Homo sapiens: one gene and its partners. The protein of the gene in region 1 interacts with the protein of each later gene in a biochemical or structural test. Each region holds a gene or a part of one and is shown on either strand. Other genes may lie near its edges. The genes, in order: CDK1, RB1 and EZH2.

What was found.
Region 2: of the proteins of CDK1 (region 1) and RB1, one has a biochemical effect on the other in vitro, tested with the Homo sapiens proteins (8 studies listed by BioGRID).
Region 3: of the proteins of CDK1 (region 1) and EZH2, one has a biochemical effect on the other in vitro, tested with the Homo sapiens proteins (5 studies listed by BioGRID).

Annotation. Positions count from the first base shown.
Region 1 is NC_000010.11:60,781,478-60,785,077, forward strand, and holds part of CDK1 (cyclin-dependent kinase 1), read left to right. Parts: intron 1-3,227; coding exon 3,228-3,384; intron 3,385-3,600. UniProt on the Homo sapiens protein: Plays a key role in the control of the eukaryotic cell cycle by modulating the centrosome cycle as well as mitotic onset; promotes G2-M transition via association with multiple interphase cyclins.
Region 2 is NC_000013.11:48,376,560-48,380,393, reverse strand, and holds part of RB1 (retinoblastoma-associated protein), read right to left. Parts: intron 3,477-3,834; coding exon 3,360-3,476; intron 801-3,359; coding exon 744-800; intron 560-743; exon of another isoform or gene 520-559; intron 342-519; coding exon 310-341; intron 230-309; coding exon 153-229; intron 1-152. UniProt on the Homo sapiens protein: Tumor suppressor that is a key regulator of the G1/S transition of the cell cycle. The hypophosphorylated form binds transcription regulators of the E2F family, preventing transcription of E2F-responsive genes.
Region 3 is NC_000007.14:148,877,490-148,881,323, forward strand, and holds part of EZH2 (histone-lysine N-methyltransferase EZH2), read right to left. Parts: intron 1-3,834. UniProt on the Homo sapiens protein: Polycomb group (PcG) protein. Catalytic subunit of the PRC2/EED-EZH2 complex, which methylates 'Lys-9' (H3K9me) and 'Lys-27' (H3K27me) of histone H3, leading to transcriptional repression of the affected target gene.

The DNA of each region.
Region 1 (3,600 bases):
TAACACGAAAGATATGATTCAATTGAACAATATTATGGAAAGCATTTGTTATGAGCGCTTTAACTCAGAAAACCTTCAAATGTTTATCATTTGAACATTGTATTATTACTATGAACACTGTCTCCAAAACCATCTCTTCACCAGCTCCATCTAATGCCACTTAACTCTTAATTTGGATTTCTTTGATGTCCTCAAATGTATCCTGTGATTTGGCCTATGAGTTTTGGCAATGGCTGTTCTTTCTACCTGGAGGCCAGTTTCTACTGGCTTCATTTTTTATCTCCTCCTCTAGTCCAAGAGCATTTTGTAGTTCCCTTTGCATCATACCATAGGATCCTTGAGGGCTGGGGTTTTTGTCTTGTTCACAACTGTTTGCCCACTGCCTATCAGTAGTGCCCAACCCACAGGAGATAGCCAAATAGATAATAATAACATCTGTTTTCCTTGTTTGCTCTTCTGAACACTGTTGTTTCTTTTTCTGGCTTGTATTGTCATTTCTACTCCAATGCCTGATTGTTTTGGATTATGTGCTGGATATTGTTTTGGAAAAAGGAACTTGTGGAAATAAATGGAGGCCTAAATGATTCACACAGAATTTTCTTTTGGTTCTGCCAGGTATCTGGTTAAAGTCTAGTATTAAAATACTACTTTAAAAGTTATATTTTTTCCCCTCAACTTTTCATTTTGAACATCTCCAAATCTATATTGAAAGATTTATGCAATGAACTTGTAATATTTTTACCAAGATGTTGGTGTTTTGTCATGTTTACTTTATTATCTGTATGTATGTTAGCATTATTTTTTATTTTTTTCATTGACATTAATTCTGATTTAGAACAGTCTCTGCCTTTTCTCTCACTTGACAGTGAGTCTTGACAACCTAATTCATTTCTTAAATACCTCCAGACTTTACTATTTTAAATATTACAAAAATTGTTCTCTGGTTTCTTCTGAATTACAGAAATCTGAGTGTTGTGATACTAATCTTTGAAATCCTTCCTGTCTTAAGAAAATGTCTTTTTGGATCATAGAGTAGCAGTATCCATGATGGTGGAACCTTGCCTGGCATTTAGTAGGCATTTGATAAATACTTGCTTAATGAAGGTTTTCTGCTTAAGGGCCTCCATAACTTGATCATATCCTACATATTTTTCTTTTGTTTCTTTTTGTTTCCTGGGATAAATCTTCCATTAGACTTAGACTGATCTCCTTCTAGGCTTACCTGTGTTAATGATTTTTGCCTCCTTAGTTATTTATACTTAGTTAAATACCCTAGAGTATTTCTGTCTTTAGAATTCTTAGTTCATTTTGGAGGATATGCCATGTATTTCAAAAATAATTTTGGATGATTAACCAATAGAAAGTTCTGCTTTGTTTAACCCCTCTTCCAGTAGTTCAGTGAGAAGTGATATTATCTCTAAAATTCAACACATTGAGTGTTGGCCACTGGTTAATTGTTAATTCTGAAAATTATTTAGGATTAGATGAGATTGTACACTTGAGGGAGAAGAAAGGATGCTAGAAAAAAAATTAGTTCTGAACTTACCATTAACTGTTTATGTGACTGTATTATGCAAGTGACTAATTTTCCTGAGATCACTTAAACAGTATGCCAGATGATTGTGCTACTGGTTTACCTACTTTTTGTGTTTAATGAGAGCTGAATTTACATCCAAAAAAATGTAGATTTTAAGTATATGAAGGTTGCCTACTTTTAAGGATGGCTGTGAGGATTAAATATAGTCAATTCTCCTTTAATGTAGAGTAATTTTGGTTATCAAAAAGTTATACATTAATCCACAATTTAATCAAAATAGTATAAAATGACTCATGTCAGTTTATAGTTTTAAAATGACACCAGTATTTAAGAAAACATAGACTTTTGTATAGAGGTTCTGTCAAAAAAATTAAGCTTAAGTAGCATCAATTTGCTACTGCTCAAACTGCTTAATTTTTTAACCAAGCAGTTGGTAATTTGTTGGTTGTTAGCCTTTTTTAAAATATTGCTACTTTCAGAGAAACTCATAAAAGCTATAGAAGAGGCCTTCTTCCTAGAACAGTGCACTCTAATCACTTTTGAAGTTAAACCAATGCCATGGAAAGCAAGCTATTCAACAAAATTTTGTGTGTACTTAAGGGGTTCAGGACCTCCCTAAACTCCAACTCGAGTTTAAAAAGACTTATCTAGGGAATTCAGCCACGTATATGACAGATTTTAGCTAGTCTTCTCCCTTATTGCCATTTCATTCCCTGTATCCACCTCCTCCCTCCCTGCTATCCCTTATAATTGATATTGTTGCTCATTACCTGAAGCCCATATATCAAAATCAGTATTTTCATCAACTTGCAAATGGGTGTGAGGCTTTCCTAATATGTAGTACATACAATGTGCTTTATTAGGTTTAATACACAAACACCTGGTCTTTTTTCTCCATTCTTTTGAGAATGAGGACTGTTGACTGTATTTTGAGATACAGATAAAAGTGTTTTGAAAAGCATAAAGCACTCTACAGTATTTTCTGAAAGTGTCATAATGACTTTTATCAGTAATATTTCCTGAGCCCAAATTTTTACACTATATTTTATGCCCACTTCGTTGCAGGGTAGGATATTGACAGAAGGTTAATTTTAATTTGCAAATGATCTATTTTGTTCTGTAAAATATGCTGGAACATTAATGGTAATTTAGATGTATAGAAAACTTGTGATGACTACATGAATTTTATTTTTAAGCCATACAGATTGTAGTTACTCTCAATTTCTTTTTGGAAGCAATGAGGGTATGAGTAAGATACTTCCCATATGGCCACACCAGACATTTCTATCATGTGACCCTTATGGGATTCAATGATCTTGAAATCCTTTAGTTTGACCAGGTGCGGTGGCTCACGCCTGTAATCTCAGCATTTTGGGGCGGCGAGGCAGGTAGATTGCTTGAGCTCACGAGTTCCAGACTGGCCTGGGCAACATGGTGAAACCCCATCTCTACCAAAAAGACAAAAATTAGCCGAGTGTGGTGGCATGTGCCTGTAGTCCCAGCTACTTGGGAGGCTGCCGTGGGAGGATCCCCTGAGCCCAGGAGGAGGAGGTTGTAGTGAGCCTTGATTGACCCACTGCACTCCAACCTGGACAAGAAAACAAGACCCTGCCATAAGGAAAAAAAAAAAGAAAAAAAGATCTTTAGTTTGTGGGGTGTGTCACACAGCATATTATTTACTTTGTTTCAGGTACCTATGGAGTTGTGTATAAGGGTAGACACAAAACTACAGGTCAAGTGGTAGCCATGAAAAAAATCAGACTAGAAAGTGAAGAGGAAGGGGTTCCTAGTACTGCAATTCGGGAAATTTCTCTATTAAAGGAACTTCGTCATCCAAATATAGTCAGGTATGTTGTAATATCTGAATGTAAGCCATTTTCTGCATGCTATTTCAAATATAAATTTCAACTTGGAAATCTTTACATTTGCTCAATTTCTTGGTCTAGCCTTACTGAGTGGACTAGAACCCTATTTTTGGTAGTTGAGAATGCCGCACATATGTAAAAGAGAACAGGCTGTTAAAGCAGGAACAGAGTTGGAGGAGCTGGGTGATGTAGATTAAT
Region 2 (3,834 bases), on another chromosome or scaffold:
TAATGACCAATTACATTCTTCAGTATATAGTGATCTAAAATAAGCATTCCTTCTCCTTAACCTCACACTATCCCTCTCCCCCGACCAAAGAAACACACCACATTTTAACTTTAAATTGAACAAAAGTGTTTATTTATGAAAATTTAACTTACTGCTATATGTGGCCATTACAACCTCAAGAGCGCACGCCAATAAAGACATATGAAAAATGTTGTCATTCAGAAGTTTGCTAAAGGAAAAAAAAAAAGATTATAAAATACTTACTTCTATAAAAAGAAAAAAATTTTTTACTAAAAGTAAAAAATTTACCTAAAATTTTGAATGGATAATCGTTCTTCTTCCTGAAACAGATAATTTAAAAAAAAAAAAAGAAGTTGTTTAATTGAAACCTTATTTGTGTCAGCATTGAATTTTTTTTTTTTTTTTTTTTTTTTTTAGATGGTGTCTTGCTCTGTTGCCAGGCTGGGGTGAAATGGCACAATCTTGGCTCACTGCAACCTCCACCTCCCTGGTTCAAGGGATTCTCCTGCCTCAGCCTGCCAAGTAGCTGGGACTACAGGTCTACACCACCACGCCCAGCTAATTTTTGTACTTTTAGTAGAGACAGGGTTTCACCATTTTGGCCAGGATGATCTTGATGCCTTGACCTCCTGATCTGCCCACCTCGGCCTCCCAAAGTGCTGGGATTGCAGGCGTGAGCCACCGCGCCCGGCTGAAATTTTTTTATATTGTTTTTAACTTACTGATTTAAGCATGGATTCCATTACTCGGTAATACAAGCGAACTCCAAGTTTGTATCGCTACAAACAAACAAAAAGAAAAATAAGAGCCTGCTATTTTAGAAAATCACAATTATGAAATTTTTTTTTTTTTTGAGATGGAGTCTCACTGTTTTGCCCAGGCTGGCCTTCACACTCCTGGGCTCAAGAGATCCTCCTGCTTTGGCCTCCCAAGAGGCTGGGATTATAGGCATGTACCACTATACCCAGCTGACAATTACTAAAATTTTTTAAAAAGCCTTTTCTTAAAACATACTTCTCACCCTTCTTACAAATATGGCCGCCAAGACAACACAAAAGCTAGCTTGTCTAAAACTCACAACTTAAGTATTAAGTGGTGATTAACATTCCCAAGTAAATTAACAAGAGGGTAGGTCCAGTACCTGGATTTCCTTAACTCCATTTCAGTTTATATCATTCATACTAAAGATAGGTTATGTGCCCAGTACTATTTTAAGCACTTTATGTACCTTATATAACATTTCTCATGACCTAGGACATGTATTTTCAAGATAGCTGTCCAGGATTAAGAGGACAGTCTTTGTCCATAAATTTAGTAAAACTGACACAGGCAAAAATCAGATCAAACTGACCTTATGAGCAAGAAGTTTTAGCCAAATAACTAGTTCCCATTATTTGAAAGAATAACCAAATTTTAGAAATATAAACACACACCATATTATTTCCTTCCAAACTAAGAGCAAAAATCTCATATATAATCATGCACCGCATAACAACGTTTTTGGTCAATAACTGACTGCATATCTAACAGTAGTCCCATAAGATTATAATGGAGCTGAAAAATTCCTATTGTTTAGTGTAATGTAGTGCAATGCATTACATTACTCACATCTTTGTGATGATGCTGATGTAAATAAACCTATTGCACTGCCAGTCATATAAAAGTATAGTACATACAATTATGTACAGTACATAATACTTAATAATGAACATGTTACTGGTTTATGTATTTATTATACTATACTTTTTATTAGTTTAGAGCATCCTCCTTCTACTTGTAAAAAAAAAAAAAAGTTAAATGTAAAACACCCTCAGGCAGCTCCTTCAGGAGATATTCCAGAAGATAGCATCATCATCATAGGAGTTGACAGCTCTATGCATTTTATTGTCCCTGAAGACTTGGGACAGAATTTGGAGGCAGAAGACAGTGGTATTGTTAATCCTGATCCTGTGTAGGCCTAGGCTAATGTGTGTGTTTGCCTTTGTTTTTGGCAAAAATCTTTATGAAATTGAAAAAATTTTTAAATAGAAAAAAGTGTACAGAATAAGGATTATAAAGAAAGAAAATATTTTTGTACAGCTGTATAAGGTGTTTGTGTTTTAAGCTAAGTGTTATAAGAGTCAAAAGTTTCTTACAAACTGAAGATTTATAAAGTAAAAAAGTTACAGTGAGCTATGGTTAATTTACTACTGAAGAAAGAAAAAATGTTTATGAAATTAGTTTAGCCTAAGTGTAGTATTTATAAAGTCTACGATAGTGTACAGTCATGTCATAGGTAATATTGTAGGCCTTCACATTCACTTGCCACTCGACTCACTGACTCATTCAGAGCAACTTTCAATCCTGTAAGCTCCTTTCATAGTAAGTGCTCTGTGCAAATGTTCCATTTTTTATCTTTTGTACTATATCTTTACCTTTTCTATGTTTGGATATATTTAGATACACAAATGGTAACACATTATGTTACCATTACCTACAGTATTCAGTACACATGCTGTAGAGGCCTGTAGCCTAGGAATGAATAGGCTATATCATACAGCTTAGATGTACAATCGGCTATACCATCTAGGTTTGTACAGACACACTCTACCAGGTTCACACAACAAAATTGCCTAATGATGCATTTGTCAGAACATATCCCTGTTAAGTGGTGCATGGCTGTAGAATCAAAAAGAACCATTAAATATCAATGTTTAAAACACTGATGGCATCAAAATATAACCTCACTACACTGAAATAAATGTGTACAGTGGACTCCAGTTTTCCAATATATTTTTGTATATTATCCTCATTAATGCCACACAACAAAGCAGAGCAAATATAGAACCTGAATCTCAGAGAAGTTAAATGACATGTCCAAGATCAACAATGGTAGAACCAAATATAAACCCAGGGCTGTCACTCCATGGCCCATACTCTTACCTATTATATTAGCTTTAGATTTCCTGAAATAATATCACTCAATAATATCACTGACAAATGGCATGTATAGTCCCATTCACATTAGGATATGCATACATGAACAGTCATACATGTAGAAGTCAAAGCAAAATCAAAAATTTAATATCAAAGATTTCAATTTTTTTCTTAGTTGTATTTTCCAAAATTTCTACAATGGCTATGTGTTCCTTTATTACATAGTTTTTATAATGGGGTGGGAGGTAGTTTTCCATAAAGTTACCCATAAATAGCAGCATACACAGGCAGCAGGGATATAGTATCTGACAGTATTTTATACTACTAGACAAATACTGTTAGAGTATTTATACGAACTGGAAAGATGCTGCTTTTAATATTATTACTCTATAGTACCACGAATTACAATGAATTCAAGTTACCTGTGATCCAATTTCGACACAACCCTGTCCCACAGCTTTAGCAAATTTCTCTTTAAAGATGTATCCTATATCCTTCACTCTTTTCAGTATACTTTCTTTTGGATTCACTGTGCAGTTCTTTAGGAGGTAAAAACAGAAATCAATGTCGAGGATACTGTGTAATCAGAATTAATATTTTCTGCTCCATAATATATGACTTTTTAAATTGTTCATAAAAATGTGGAAACACTTCCATAATAACTAGGTAACCACAACTACTGAACATAAGCAGACAATATCATTTCACTGGATGTTAATGAGCAAAAAATACTACAGTACAACTAAAAAACCCTATTATCTAAATTTTCTGCCACTAGGCTAGAGAAGAGCAAATTTGTTAAGCTTTCCATCCATCAGAAAGAGCCTCATACATTCTCATAAAATACCTTCAATTAAGAGTTATATTGGGATGTATGTTGCTTCCGAAAAAGCAAAT
Region 3 (3,834 bases), on another chromosome or scaffold:
GTTCTAAGGATTTCACATGTATCAATTCCTTTAATCCTCACAACCACCTTATCAGATGTTATCATTATCCTCACCAATTTACAGATAGGGATGCTAAGACATCAAGAGGATAACACCCCAGACACAAATTGGTAGCTCAGGGACTGGAACCCAAGAAACTGTCTCCAAAGACCACATCCTTAGAACTCTACTCTCCTCCCCTCTCAAATGCATACTATTACCACTCTGGCTGAGAAAGAAATCCTCAAAGTTAACCTTTAGTCTGTCTAGGGTTTCACACTGTACCTTCCATCAAACTACAATTACCTACTTTTAAATGTAACTTTCTGAATGATTCAAATAAACTCATTCTTCTCGGAGCTGACATATCTTTAATCACCCAGAAAGCCAGCAGATAACACAGAACAGATAATATGGAGTAGATAATATGTAGTGAAACAGAACTAAGTTTGGATCCCGAATGCAAATTCCCAGCTGAATAATCCTGGGCAAATTCTTAACTCCTCCCCTGTAGACAGTTTTCTTCAGTTTCCTCATCTGTAAAGGTTTTCGGAGTGTGTTATTAAATTTTGTATTCTGGTAAGATATATAGATATAGAGAGAGATATATATAGATACAGATACATATCGTGTAAAATTTACCATTTTAACCATTTTTAAGTGTACAATTCTGTGGCATTAAATATATTCAAAATATTGTTCAACCATCACTATTATCCATCTCCAGAATTTTTTCACCATTCCAAACAGAAACTCTGTATTCATTAAACTCCCCATTCACCTCTCCCCTCACAGCCCTGGTAACCTCTATTCTACTTTCTGTCTCCATAGAGTTGCCTCTTCTAACTACCTCATATAAATGAGATCATACAATTTTGTATTTTTGTACAAAAGGTTGTATCTGGCTTATTTCACTAAGCATAATATTCTCCAGCTCCATCCATGTATCAGAATTTCACTCCTTTTATGTCTGAATTATTTTGAAATCTTTTTACTTTTATTTTGAAATTTCACTCCTTTTACGTCTTTATTTCACTCCTTTTATGTTTTCATTGGTTTATATACCACATTTTGTTAATTCGCCTGTTGGCAGACACAAGGTGGTTCTTACAAATATTAAAAACAAAAGCTGGGTGCAGTGGGTCACACCTATAATCCCAGCACTTTGGGAGGCTGAGGTAGGTGGATCTCTTGAGTTCAGGAGTTCAAGACCAGCCTGGGCAACATGGCAAAACCCTGTCTCTACAAAAAATACAAAAATTAGCCAGGCGTGGTGGCATGCACTTGTAGTCCCAGCTACTTGGGAGGCTGAGATGGAAGGATCGCTTGAGCCCAGGAGGCAGAGGTTGCAGTGAACTGAGATCACGCATCTGCACTCCAGCCTGGGTGACAACAAGACCCTGTCTCCAAAAAAAAATTTTTAATTTAAAAATGTTTAAAAAGTATCCAGGCCAGGCGTGCGCAGTAGCTCACGCCTGTAATCCCAGCACTTTGGGAGGCCGAGGCAGGCGGATCATCTGAGGTCAGCAGTTCGAGACTAGCTTGGCCAACGTGGTGAAACCCCATCTCAACTAAAAATACAAAAATTAGCCAGGTGTGGTGGTGCGTTCCCGTAATCCCAGCTACTCGGGAGGCTGAGGTAGGAGAATCGCTTGAACCCAGGAGGCAGAGGTTGCAGTGAGCCGAGATCACGCCACTGCACTCCAGCCTGGGCAACAAGTGTGAGACTCCATATCAAAAAACAAAAACAAAAACAAAAAACAAAAACAAAAACAACACAGCAGGGTGTGGTGGCTCACACCTATAATCCCACCACTTTGGGAGGACGAGGCAGGTCAATCACTTGAGGTCAGGAGTTCCAGACCAGCCTGGCCAACACAGTGAAACCCAGTTTCTACTAAAATATAAAAATTATCGGAGGCTGGGCACAGTGACTGACGCCTGTAATCCTAGTACTTTGGGAGGCCAGGGCAGGTGGATCACCTGAGGTCGGGAGTTCGAGACCAGCCTGGCCAACATGGTGAAATCCCATCACTACTAAAAATACAAAAATTAGCCAGGCCTGGTGGTGCATGCCTGTAATCCCAACTACTTGAGAGGTGAGGCAGGAGAATCATTTGAACCCAGGAGGTGGAGGTTGCAGTGAGCCAAGATGGTGCCACTGCACTCCAGTCTAGGTGACAGAGTGACACTGCATCTCAAAAAAATAAATAATAAATAATAAATAAATAAATTAGCCGAGCGTGGTGGCGCACGCTTGTAGTCCCAGCTACTCAGGAGGCTGAGGCACAAGAATCACTTTCGAGACTCCGTCTCAAAAAAAAAAAGTATCTGGGTCAAACACAATGGCTCAGCCTGTCATCCCTGTACTTTAAGAGGCCAAGGCAGGAGGATTGCCTGGAGCCAGGAGTTTGAGATCAACGTGGGCAACAAAGCAGGATCCCATCTCTACAAAAAATTAAAAAATTAAATAAGTCACCACAATGGTGTGCACTGGTAATACCAGTTACTCAGGAGGCTGAGACAGGAGGATCCCTTGAGCCCAGGAGTTTAAGGATGCAGTGAGCTATGATCTTGTTCTGTCTTGCTATTGTTAATGGAAAACAAGACCAATTATTAAGAAACTGCTAACCACATAATCTAAACACAAATTTGTCATATTTTTATACCAAGTAGTGGAACAGTGGCAAGATATGGAATGGTGCAACTATCTTAGAAATTTACCAGCTGTAACTTTTGAGGTATCACTAAATTTGCTAATCTGTATTTAAATCATTTTAAAAGAATGATGAAAAGCATCCCAATAAATGATCCAATTACACTGTCGCTACATCCTTCAGTTTTAGCTCCAAAACCTACCTCAATTTACTCCAATAAAGAACTCATGAATTATAACAAAACAGCTTTTCAGTTAAAAGATCTACTACCCTCTCTCGCCCTTTCCCTTCCTTATATTTTTGCAAAGAGATCATCAATATCAACATTAAATCAAATTAAGCAAATACTATTACTAAATATCCAGATGATTCATCAAGTTCTCTCCAGTTGTCCGAGTGTAATAGTTGCATCTAAAGGATATCTAATGTTTAGTACTACAGATTATAACTAGGAAAAACTTGGAACTTGTTCACCTTGACAACTATTTTTCTTTGTAATCATTCCCTATTAAAGAGGGAGAAAAACACATTTCAAAGTTCCTCACATGAATACTAACATATCCTGTTCACTTTGCAAGTTCCTTTGTCAAATTATTTCCCTACATTTTTCATATTTCCTTAATTCATTCAACTATATTTAAAACCCCTATTCTCTAGCAAATACCAACGTAGGTACTAGGTATACAAAGAAAAAAATAAGACAGAGCCTCTACCAGGAGGCACTTTGACTGTAGGGAAGAGAGGGATGCATAAACAAGTGATTACAATACAATTGAGTCATGCTACAATAAAATATGATAAAACCCTGTGGGAACACAAGAGTGGGAATTCAGGGAAGACCTCCAGAAGGTAAAGTATGTATCATCTGACCATGAACCTTTCTCTGAATTTAATGAATTGCTGCTGTTCACTTATGCTCTCCCCCGAAGATTTCACCTACTCATATAGAATCTATCATGATTTACAGAAAATTTGTCATCTATACTGATATAAAGACTTCAAGGCTAATCCATAAATCATTGCTAATTAACCACAGAATACATTATATTGGAGGATTTGTCCTTGTTGGTTTTTAAAAAGCAGATCAACTTTCTCAATCACTGCTCATGTAAAGGGTAATACTGAAATAAATTCAGAATCCTTGAGCACACTACCTCAAAAGAAGGAAGGTATCCTG